Linked DNA regions of Homo sapiens: region 1 is linked to region 2. Evidence: fine-mapped expression QTL. A gene starts in region 2. The other region holds a variant in brackets. All regions are shown on one strand. Distances are from middle to middle. Region 1 has its middle 14 kb from the start of EGILA. Region 2 holds the start of RNASE6 (ribonuclease A family member 6).

What was found.
Region 1: its variant is fine-mapped to the expression of RNASE6 in whole blood (TOPMed, PIP above 0.99).

Annotation. Positions count from the first base shown.
Region 1 is chr14:20,718,202-20,723,581 of GRCh38, reverse strand. It overlaps the pseudogene RANBP20P. Among named protein-coding and RNA genes, the nearest start is that of EGILA, 14 kb to the right of the region's middle. The variant T/C (reference allele first, on the strand shown) is at 2,634.
Region 2 is chr14:20,778,123-20,783,502 of GRCh38, reverse strand. It overlaps RNASE6 (ribonuclease A family member 6), which reads right to left and starts at 2,235. Exons shown (of 2, transcript NM_005615.5): 1 at 2,165-2,235; 2 at 1,036-1,808. The coding sequence starts at 1,803. The coding sequence ends at 1,351. The region is part of intron 1 of LOC107984671 (a long non-coding RNA gene); the gene reads left to right. RefSeq lists an enhancer at 1,091-1,160.

The DNA.
Region 1 (5,380 bases), 60 kb after region 2:
CTCTCCCCTGAGCCGGCTGCCCCGGCAGCGCAGCCAAGGCCCCGTCAGCCTCCGCCCCTTCAGCCTCCGGGCCGAGCCCGCCGCCACCTCTGCCCGCGGAGGCCGGGGAGCCCCCGCCTGCGCCCGCAGCCTCCCCCGCGCGGGGTTCGGGCCGGGCGGGGGTCCCGAGCTGCTGCCCTCCTCGCCAGCAATCGAGCCCCATTTCCTACTTTTTCAGTTTCCTTGTGGAGGGGCCGGTGGGTCTAGATGACTTGTCTCAGGGGCCCCCGATGAGGCGACCCAGGCAGCCCTGCCCTTTTTAGAGGATCCCCTCGGGGCCCGGGGGGGAAGGGGTTATCTTTGCATGGGTAGGGGACTTCCCTAGTCTGCCGGGACCATGACCTGAACTGGGCGAGTAGGATGTGTCCAAAGCCCAAGAACCAGCTCATCTGAGCCGCCCCCTCCCCGGCCAGCATGGCATCTGAAGAAGCCCCTCTCAGAGCATTGGAAAGGCTGATGACAGAACTTTTTCACGATGGTACGACCAATGAAAGAAAACGTGAGATAGAGGAGCTTCTTAATAACATTGCCCAGCAAATAGGAGCCTGGAGATTCTTCCTGTACTTTCTCTCCAGCACTAGGAATGGCTATGTAATGATGTACAGTTTAACAGTTTTTGAGAATCTGATCAATAAAATGTGGCTTGGGGTCCCATCTCAGGATGAGATGGAAATCCACAGCTGACTGCCCAAACTCCTTTTGGCTCACCATAAAACCTTACCTTACTTTATCCAGAGCAAGTTCTGCAAAGTTATTGTTGATATTGGACGTCAGGATCGGCCCATGTTCTACCATGACTTTTTTACTAACATTTTGCAGTTGAACCAATCCCCTGTGACAACCCCCCTTGGGCCGATCATGTTGAAGACAACTTCAGAGGAGCTGGCTTGTCCCCACGAGGACCTCAGTGTGGCTTGGAAGGAGGAGTTGCAGAAGCTGCCACTGGACCAGGTGCAGACAGTGCTTGGGCTGCTGACCGCTATCTTGGGGACTGTCTGGGACAAACACAGTGTTACTGCTGCCACTCCACCACCCTCCCCGACAGGAGAAAGTGGTGACTTACTGAGTAACCTGTGGCAGAGTCCTAGTTCAGCCAAACTGTTGAATCAGCCAATTCCCATCCTTGATGTGGTGAGTGAGTATATCTGTTCCCTTGCCTTGGAGTGCCTAGCCCATCTCTTCAGTTGTATTCCTCTGTCTGCCGGCATCACCCCATCCCTCCTTACCACCACCTTCCACTTTGCGTGATTTGGCTGTGACATCCGTGCCAGAAAGATGGCGTCAGTTAACGGCAGCAGCCAGAACTGTGTCTCGGTTCAGGAGCGGAGCCGGCCGGGGGTCCTGGCCATGCCCTGCATCAGTGAACTCATTTCCAAGAGCTGTGTGCCGATGGAGTTCGAGGAGTATTTACTGCTTATGTTCCAGCAGACTTTCTACCTCCTGCAGAAGATCACCAAGGATAACAATGCCCACACAGTGAAGAGCAGGCTAGAAGAGCTCGATGAGAGCTTTATTGAGAAGTTTACTGACTTTCTTTGGCTCTTTGTGAGTGTTCACCTAAGAAGAATCGAGTCTTACTCCCAGTTCTCTGTGGTGGAGTTTTTGACACTTTTGTTCAAGTACACATTTCATCAGCCTACTCATGAAGGTTAATTCTCTTGTTTGGATACTGGACACTCTTTTTGGACTATCTGACAAATAAAATTAAAAGTCATCTTGAAGACAAGGAAGCAGTTCTCAACAGGTACGAAGATGCCCTGGTGCTCCTCCCCACAGAGGTGTTGAATCAAATCCAGTTCAGATACAACCAGGCCAGCTGGAGGAGTTGGATGACGAGACTCTGGATGACGATCAGCAGATGGAGTGACAGCGGTACTTACGGCAGAGCTTGGAGGTGGCGGTCAAAGTGATGGAGCTCCTGCCCACGCACACGTTGTCCACACTGTTCCCAGTTCTTCAGGGCAATTTAGAAGTTTATTTGGGATTACAGCAAGTTATAGTTACATCAGGGTCAGGACACAGGTTGAACATCATGGCAGAGAACGACTGCTGGTGGCTGCACTGCTCCCTGAGAGACTTGAGCTCCCTGCTGCAGGCCATGGGCCACCTGGCCGGGTACTTTATTGGGGATGTGTTTGCTGCATGGTTCAATGATGCCCTCACAGTTGTGGAGAGTTTGGTCAAAGTCACTCTGTATGGATCTCAGATAAAGTTGTACAACATTGAGCCAGGTGCGGTGGCTCACGCCTGTAATCCCAGCACTTTGGGAGGCCGAGGTGTGTGGATCACAAGGTCAGGAGACTGAGACCATCCTGGATAACATGGTGAAACCCTGTCTCTACTAAAAACACAAAAAATTAGGTGGGCACGGTGGCACGTGCCTGTAGTCCCAGCTATTCGGGAGGCTGAGGCAGGAGAATCACTTCAACCAGGGAGGGAGAGGTTGCAGTGAGCTGAGAACGTGCCACTGCACTCCAGCCTGGGCAAGAGAGCAAGACTCCGTCTCAAAAAAGAAAAAAAAAAATTGTGCAACATTGAAACTGATGTGCCATCAGTATTGAAACCTGACCTCATTGATGTACGTGCTCAGTCCC[T/C]GGCTGTGCTGCAGGCTTACACTCACTGGTTAGTGCAGTATTGCAGTGAAGCTCACCAGCAGAACACACAGCAGTTCGTGACACTCATCCCTATTACCATGAATGCAATCACACCTCTAATCAGCACCAAGTTCTCGAAGCAGCAAAGCCTACCGTCTACACCTTTTATCTAACTCTGTCTCTCCTTCTGTTCCTATACCCATTTATTAGAAAATCTAAATATGACACAGAGTTAGACCCATAAATCTTTCCGCTTTATAAAACTGTTATTTCATCTTCCTTTTTACTTGTAGCCCACATGCATTCAAATACAACTTTACTTTTTTGGTTATATAAGTTCCACATGCTCACTGTGAAAAACCAAAATATTGTTCAGATTTCCAGACTAAAAAGTTGTGATACCTTTGAAACATTTTCCTTCAGGCGGTACACACAGTTGGGCATTGGTTGTGCAGGCACACCTCGTTTTGTTGTGTTTCCCTTTATAGCACTTCGTAGATACTGTGTTTTTTACAAGTTGAAGGCTTATGGCAACCCTGCATTGAGCAAATCTGTCAGCGCCATTTTTTCAACAGCATTTAGTGCTTCCATGTGTCACATTTTGGTAATTATTAGAATATTTCAAACTTCTTCTATGACTATATCTGACAGTAATTTGTGGTTAGTGATCTTTGATGTTACTATTGTAATTATTTTGGGGTGCCACAAACTGAAGATGGCAAACTTGATTGATAAATGTGTGTGTTCTGACTGCTCCACTGATTGGCGGCTTCCCCACCTTCCTGTCTTTAGGACTCCCTATTCCCTGAGCCATTTAGTAACCCTACAATGACCTCTATGTGTTCAAGTGAAAGGAAGAGTCACATGTCTCTTACTTTAAAAATCTAGAAATGATTAAGCTTAGTGAGGAAGGCGTGTCAAAAGCTAGGATAGGCCAAATGCTGTTGAGCCAGTTAGTCAAGTTGCGAATGCAAAGGAAAAGTTCTTGAAGGAGATTAAAAGTTCTGCTCTAGTGAACACACAAGTGATAAGAAAGCAGAACAGCCTTATTGTTGTTGACACGGGGAAAATTTCAGTGGTTCGGATAGACCAAACCAGCCACAACATTCTCTTATGCCAAAGTCAAAACCAGATCAGGCCCTTCAATTCTCTGAAAGCTGAGAGAGGTGAGGAAGCTACAGAAGAAAAGTTGTAAGCCAACACAGGTTGGTTCGTGAGGTTTAAGGAAAGAAGCCATCTCCATAACATAAAAGTGCAGGATGAAGCAGCAAGTCCTGAGGAGAAGCTGCAGCAAGTTCTCCAGAAGCTCTAGATAAGATCATTGATGAAGGTGGCCACACTAAACAACAGATTTTCAGTGTAGATGAGACAGCTTTATAGTGGAAGAAGGTGCCATCTGGGACTCCCATAGCTAGAGAGGAGGAGTCAGTGCCTGGTTTCAGAGCTTCAGAGGGCAGGCCAACTCTCTTGTCAGGGGGCACCTGCCACTGGAGACTTCAGGTTGAAGCCAGTGCTCATGTATCATTTGAAAATCCTAGGGCCCTTAGGAATTATGCTGAATCTACTTTGCCTGTCTCTATAAATGGAACAACAAAGCCTGATTGACAGCACATCTGTTTACATCATGGTTTACTGAATATTTTAAGCTCATTATTGAGACCTGCTCAGAAAAAAAAGATTCCTTTCAAAATACTACTGCTGATTGGCAATGCACTTGGTTACCTAAGGCCTCTGATGGAGATGTTCAAAGATATTAATTTCCATAGTTTCCATGCCTGCTCACACAACATCCGTTCTGCAGTTCTGCAGCCCATGGATCAAGGAGTAATTTTGGCTTTCAAGTCTTATTACTTCAGAAATACATTTCATAAGACTATAGCGGTCATAGATAGTGGTTCCTCCAATGGATCTGGGCAAATAAATTGAAAATATTAATTCAAATAATGGAACTCATTTCACTGCACATATCATTAAGAAATTAGCCCAAGCACTAGACATAACGTGGGAATACCATACTCCTTGGCACCCACCTTCATCGGGAAGAGTAGAAAGAATAAATCAAACCGTGAAGAGTCACTTAACCAAATTAGTCTTAAAGACTCAGTTGCCATGGACTAAATGCCTTCCCATTGCCTTGCTAGGAATCTGAACCACCCCTCAAAAAGATGTTGGCCTATCCCCATATGAGATGCTATATGGGTTGCCCTATTTACACTCCACTGCTGACATTTCCACCTTCGAAACAAAAGATCAGTTTCTCAGACATTATATACTTGGTTTATCTTCCACTTTCTCTTCCCTTAGAACTAAAGGTCTTTTAGCACAGGCACCATCCCTGGAGTTCCCAGTACATCGAAATCAGCCCGGGGATCAAGTCCTCATCAAAAACTAGAAGGAGGAAAAGCTGGAACTGGCCTGGGAAGGACCTTATCTAGTGCTCCTAACTACTGAAAGCGCAGTCCAGACAGCAGAAAAAGGATGGACCTATCACACCCAAGTCAAGAAAGTGCCGCCCCCTCCAGAGTCGTGGGCCATAGTCCCAGGGGAAAACCCTACCAAACTAAAGCTAAGAAATTTTTTTTTTTTTTGAGACAGAGTCTTGCTCTGTTGCCCAGGCTGGAGTGCAGTGGTGCGATCTTCACTCACTGCAACCTCCACCTCCCGGGTTCGAGCAATTCTCCCGCCTCAGCCTTCCGAGTAGCTGGGATTACAGGCGTGTACCACTACGCCTGTATAATTTTTGTACT
Region 2 (5,380 bases):
CCCAGGCTGGAGTGCAGTGGTGCAATCTCGGCTCACTACAGCCTCTGCCTCCCAGGTTCAAGCGATTCTCTTGCCTCAGGCTCCTGATTAGCTGGGATTACAGGCTCCTGCCATCATGTCTGGCTAATTTTTTGTATTTTTAGTAGAGATGGGGTTTCACCACATTGGCCAGGCTGGTCTCAAACTCTTGGCCTCAAGTCGTCTGCCTGCCTCGGCCTCCCAAAGTGCTGGGATTACTGGTGTGAGCCACTGCATTGGGTCTCCTGGTGCTTTTCTCTTTTTCTTTTTTTGTTTTTGAGATGGGAGTCTCACTCTGTTGCCCAGGCTGGAGTGCAGTGACACAATATTTGCTCACTGCAACTTCTACCTCCTGGGTTCAAGCGATTCTCCTGCCTCAGCCTCCCGAGTAGCTGGGATTACAGGCACTGCCACCACGCCCAGCTACTTTTTTTGTATCTTTAGTAGAGATAGCGTTTCACCATGTTGGCCAGGCTGGTCTTGAACTCCTGACCTCAGACGATCCACCTGCCTCAGCCTCCTAAAGTGCTGGGATTACAGGCGTGAGCCACCACGACAAGCCTAGTGCTTTTTTCTTGATCTATGCTTTCTATTTATCCATTTCAATAAATAATGGAGGATTGACCCTAAGGTTACTACAATGGATTATTATCCCTATTACTACTACTATCACCTTATATTTAAAACATTATCTGATTAAAAACGGAAACAAATAGAAAAGACATAGGATCCTTCAGTTGCCAGTGACAGAATCTATGTGTGAGTTATCATCAACTGTCTTTGAGGTATCAGTACTACCTCCAATTAAGCATAGACAATGGTTTCCAGGGGAATATATAAAGTCATGAGCAGAGTTTGAAGAAATGCTCCAAAGTCCCAAACGCTGTCCTTTCTTGTGGGCAAGGAAGTGGGGCCCCAGGGAGGCCTCAAAAGTTTTCTAGGGACTTAAAGTCAAAACAGTGTTCCTCTGAGTACCGGTCAACAATGCTTTGAAAGCGGATCTCAAACACACACTCATTAGAATGCAGCAGGAAGTGGTTTTATTGCTGTGAACACAGGGCAATAAAGCTTGGCAAAAGTTGCAGGGTTAGAAATCTGAATCTTTCTTTGCTGTCTTCCCTATTCCCTTCTCTCGAAAAGTACAGAACTACAAAGCAGAAAATAATCTTATTTCTTTTTGTCTCAACTCTGGTCTGGCATCCTAGGCACTCGAATTCTCCAAACACCTTTCTTCTTTCTTCTACGGGAACAAGAAAATCAACAAAAGAAAAGAAAACATGGATGCAATTGTAACAGAAGCTATGTCAAATGAAAGGAAATGCAGTGGATGCCTTAGAGAATACTATCTAAGTGTACAGGAACCAACTTGTAGGGGGGATCGCTCTTCTGAGGGGGGTCACAGGCAACAATGAAGAATTTGTACTGGGCAGCAGCACTATAGCGGCACTGGGGATACTTTCCTGAAGTGAGTCTGCAGTCAGTCATGTTGACAGGCTTTGAGCTCTGGTGGCAGTTGTGCCGACGATTTTTGCAGACAATGCTGAGCAAATCACAGACAGCAGCCACATTCTGGAAAGAGTCATGCAGAAAGGTATTTTGATGCTTACAGTGCTGGGTATAATTGTTGATGCCACTCATTGCCCTGTTGCATTGGAGAGGACTTGGCTGTATATGCTGAATTTCAAACCAGTGAGCCTTGGTGAGACGCTTAGGCCAAGCATGAAGTGGACACACTGGTCCCCATAGAACCAGCAGCAGTAAAAGAAGAGGAAAGCATAGCACCATCTTTTCTGTGTAGAAAGAGAGAAGATAGTTATAGTAGGAGAAGCAATAAGAGCAAAATTTTTAATCATAACTATTTAGATTTTTATTTTGCCTTTTAAGATTTTACAGCTCCCTTTAAAATCTTCTTTCTCACATAGTCTCACAATTCTATGAAGAACCTGAAGCCCAGGAAACAGAAATATGACCTCTCCTTTGATTGGCATATCCCATTTTCTTTCACAAGTACTCATGCATTTGATGGCTGTCATATCAGAAAGTTTCTTCCCTCTTCCCTCCTGAAATATTTACCCTCTATCTGACCACTACCTCCCAGCCGTCTTTACTGCTCTACTCGCTCCAGCCCTGAGGCTTTCTTTCTTACCTGGTCTCAGTGTTGGGGCTCCTGCTGAGAACAGAGGCTGTGATTAGTCCAAAGCTCAGAAGCTGTTGTCTGCCTTTCTTCTCTAACCCTTCGAGCCCTGTGTGTATAGGGAAGGGGAAGAAATATTCTGAGCTTTCAGAAGGAGAATCCTAGGGTTTGGCAGATTAACTTCTTGTGCAGAGTCTGGATTAAACTCTTAGACTTTCACACCTGTTCTTTAAAACAGTATCATTATCACATGTATACAGGAAGGCTAAACCAACTTAAAGAAACAACATGACTGAAAACTCACAGTTTTGAGGAACTGATCACTTCCTGATATGGAATGAGTGCTTCCTGCCTCATCTGAGGCTTCAGTGTTTTTTTTTGAAGCTTTATGATTCCTGTTTCTTAAGAGAAAATATGTCACATAAATATGATATAATGCCTGCCACATACTTGGTAATGTTGTAAGTTCCTACAACAGAAGTGAATACATTATTCATTTATGCATATACTTATTGGGCCAGGTACTAGGCTACACAAATTCAGGAGCTCATGAGTTTTTTTTTTTTTTTTTTTTGAGACGGAGTCTTGCTCTGTCGCCCAGGCTGGAGTGCAGTGGTGCGATCTTTGCTCACTGCAAGCTCCACCTCCTGGGTTCATGCCATTCTCCTGCCTCAGCCTCCCGAGTAGCTGGGACTACAGGTGCCTGCCATCACGCCCAGCTAATTTTTTTGTATTTTTAGTAGAGACGGGGTTTCACTGTGTTAGCCAGGATGGTCTCTATCTCCTGACCTCGTGATCTGCCAGGAGCTCATGATTTAATGAAAGAGATTAGAGACAGGCAGGTAAGTATATAGACAAGTAGATTATATTAATATAAATAGCACTTACAGTGTGATGGAGGACACTGCAGGAGGCTACGGGAAGATAGTAGAGGGGAAGGATTGTTGGAGGGCACAACACCTGAACTGAATTTTGAGGAATAATTAGAAGTTAGGTGAAGAGAGTGTTAAGCGCCTCCCAAAGACAGAATTGTGTATGAAAAGACCTGTAAGCCTGAAGAAGAAGGCCGAATTTAGGATATTTGCCTCTTGAATCTGTTCTTACCTTTTCACTGGTACTGCAACACCCTTATTCAGAAACTCATTGTCTTATGGAGGGCTCACATAAAAGCCTCCCACATGGACTCCTTGCCTTGTTTTTTTCTCCTTCCAATCCATTCTACATATTACTTCCAGATTAGTCTTTTTTTGAACAAGATATAATAGTACAACACTCTTGCCCCATGCTTTTATGGCTCCAAATGTCTGCAGAATAAACATAATGTCTGTTTATAGCAAGGTTGCAGGATACAAGGTTAATATACAAAAGTCAGTTGCTTTCTTATATACCAGCAATGAACAATTGCAATTTGATATTTAAAACACAATACCATTTATATTGCACCAAAGAAAGTGAAATACTTAGGTGTAAATCTAATACATTATGTAAAAATTGGTATGAGGAAAAATTTAAAACTCTAATGAAAGAAATTGAGGAAGCACAGATATTCCATGTACATGAGTAGGAATACTCAATATGTTAAGATGTCATTTCCTCTCAACTTGATCTATAGATTCAGCACAATCTCAATCAATATCCCAGCACATTATTTTGTGGATAGTGACAAACTGACTCTGAAGTTTATATAAAAGTAAAAGATTCAGGTTGGACACGGTGGCTCACGCCTGTAATCCCAGCACTTTGGGAGGCCGAGGCAGGCTGATCACGAGGTCAAGAGATCAAGACCATCCTGGCTAACACAGTGAAACCCCGTTTCTACTAAAAATACAAAAAATTAGCCAGGCCTGGTGGCGGGCGCCTATAGTACCAGCTACTTGGGAGGCTGAGGCACGAGAATCGCTTGAACCCGGGAGGTGGAGCTTGCAGTGAGCCGAGATCGCACCACTGCACTCCAGCCTGGGTGACAGAGCGAGACTCTGTCTCAAAAAAAAAAAAGATTCAGAATAGTCAACACAATGCAGAAAAAGAAGAACAAAGTCAGAAAACTGACGTGACCCAACTTCAAAACTTACTATAAAGCTACAGCAATTAAGACAGTGTGTTATTGGTGAAAAATAGACAAATAGGTCAATGGAACCAAGTAGAAAGCCCAGAGGTAGACCCACACAAATACAGTGAACTAATCTGTGACAAAGGATCAATTTTCAATTGAGAAAAGTTAGTCTTTTCAACAAATGGTAGTAGAACTGAATGTACACATGCAAAAAATAAATCTTTTCATAGGTTAGACTTCATACATTTTCATAGACCTGTACTTTATATCTTTCACAATTTTTTTTTGAGATGGAGTTTCGCTTTTGTTGCCCAGGCTGGAGTGCAATGGCATGATCTTAGCTCACCACAACCTCTGCCGCTCAGGTTCAAGTGATTCTCCTGCCTCAGCCTCCGGAGTAGTTGGGATTACAGGCATGCACCACTACACCCAGCTAATTTTGTATTTTTAGTAGAGACAGGGTTTCACCATGTTGGTGAGGCTGGCCTCGAACTCCTGACCTCAGGTGATCCGCCCACCTCGGCCTCCCAAAGTGCTGGGATTACAGGCGTGAGCCACCGCGCCTGGCACAAATGTTAATTCAAAATGGACCATAGACCTAATGCAAAATACAAAACTACAAAAATTCTAGAAAATAACATAGAAGAAAATCTAGGCAGCCTTGAGTTTGGCAATGATTTTTTAGATACAATACCAAAAGCACAATCCATGAAAGAAAAATATTGATAAGTGGAACTTCATTAAAATTGAAAACTTCTGCTCTGCAACAGATACTATTAAGAGAATAAAAAGATAAGCCAGAGACTGAGAGAAGATATTTGCAAAAGATATATCTGATAAAAGAACATTATCCAAAATATACAAAGAACTCAAAAAACCTCAACCATAAGAAAACCAACAACCTAGTTGAAAAATGGGCAAAACATCTGAATGGTATGGGGCAAAGACAATTTTTCCTCTCCCTCTGAAGGTTCAAAACTTCTGAAATGAACTGACAATAGACAGATTAACAGGAGAAAAAGGCATACAAATTTATTACTGTGCATAATCATGGGAACCATACAAATTATGAGACTCAAAGAAAGACTAAATAGTTGAAATTCATGTATTCTCTTCATAGGGGAGAGGAACATGGGGAAAATGTAGGCAATTTTGAGGAGTTTTAAATATTTTTT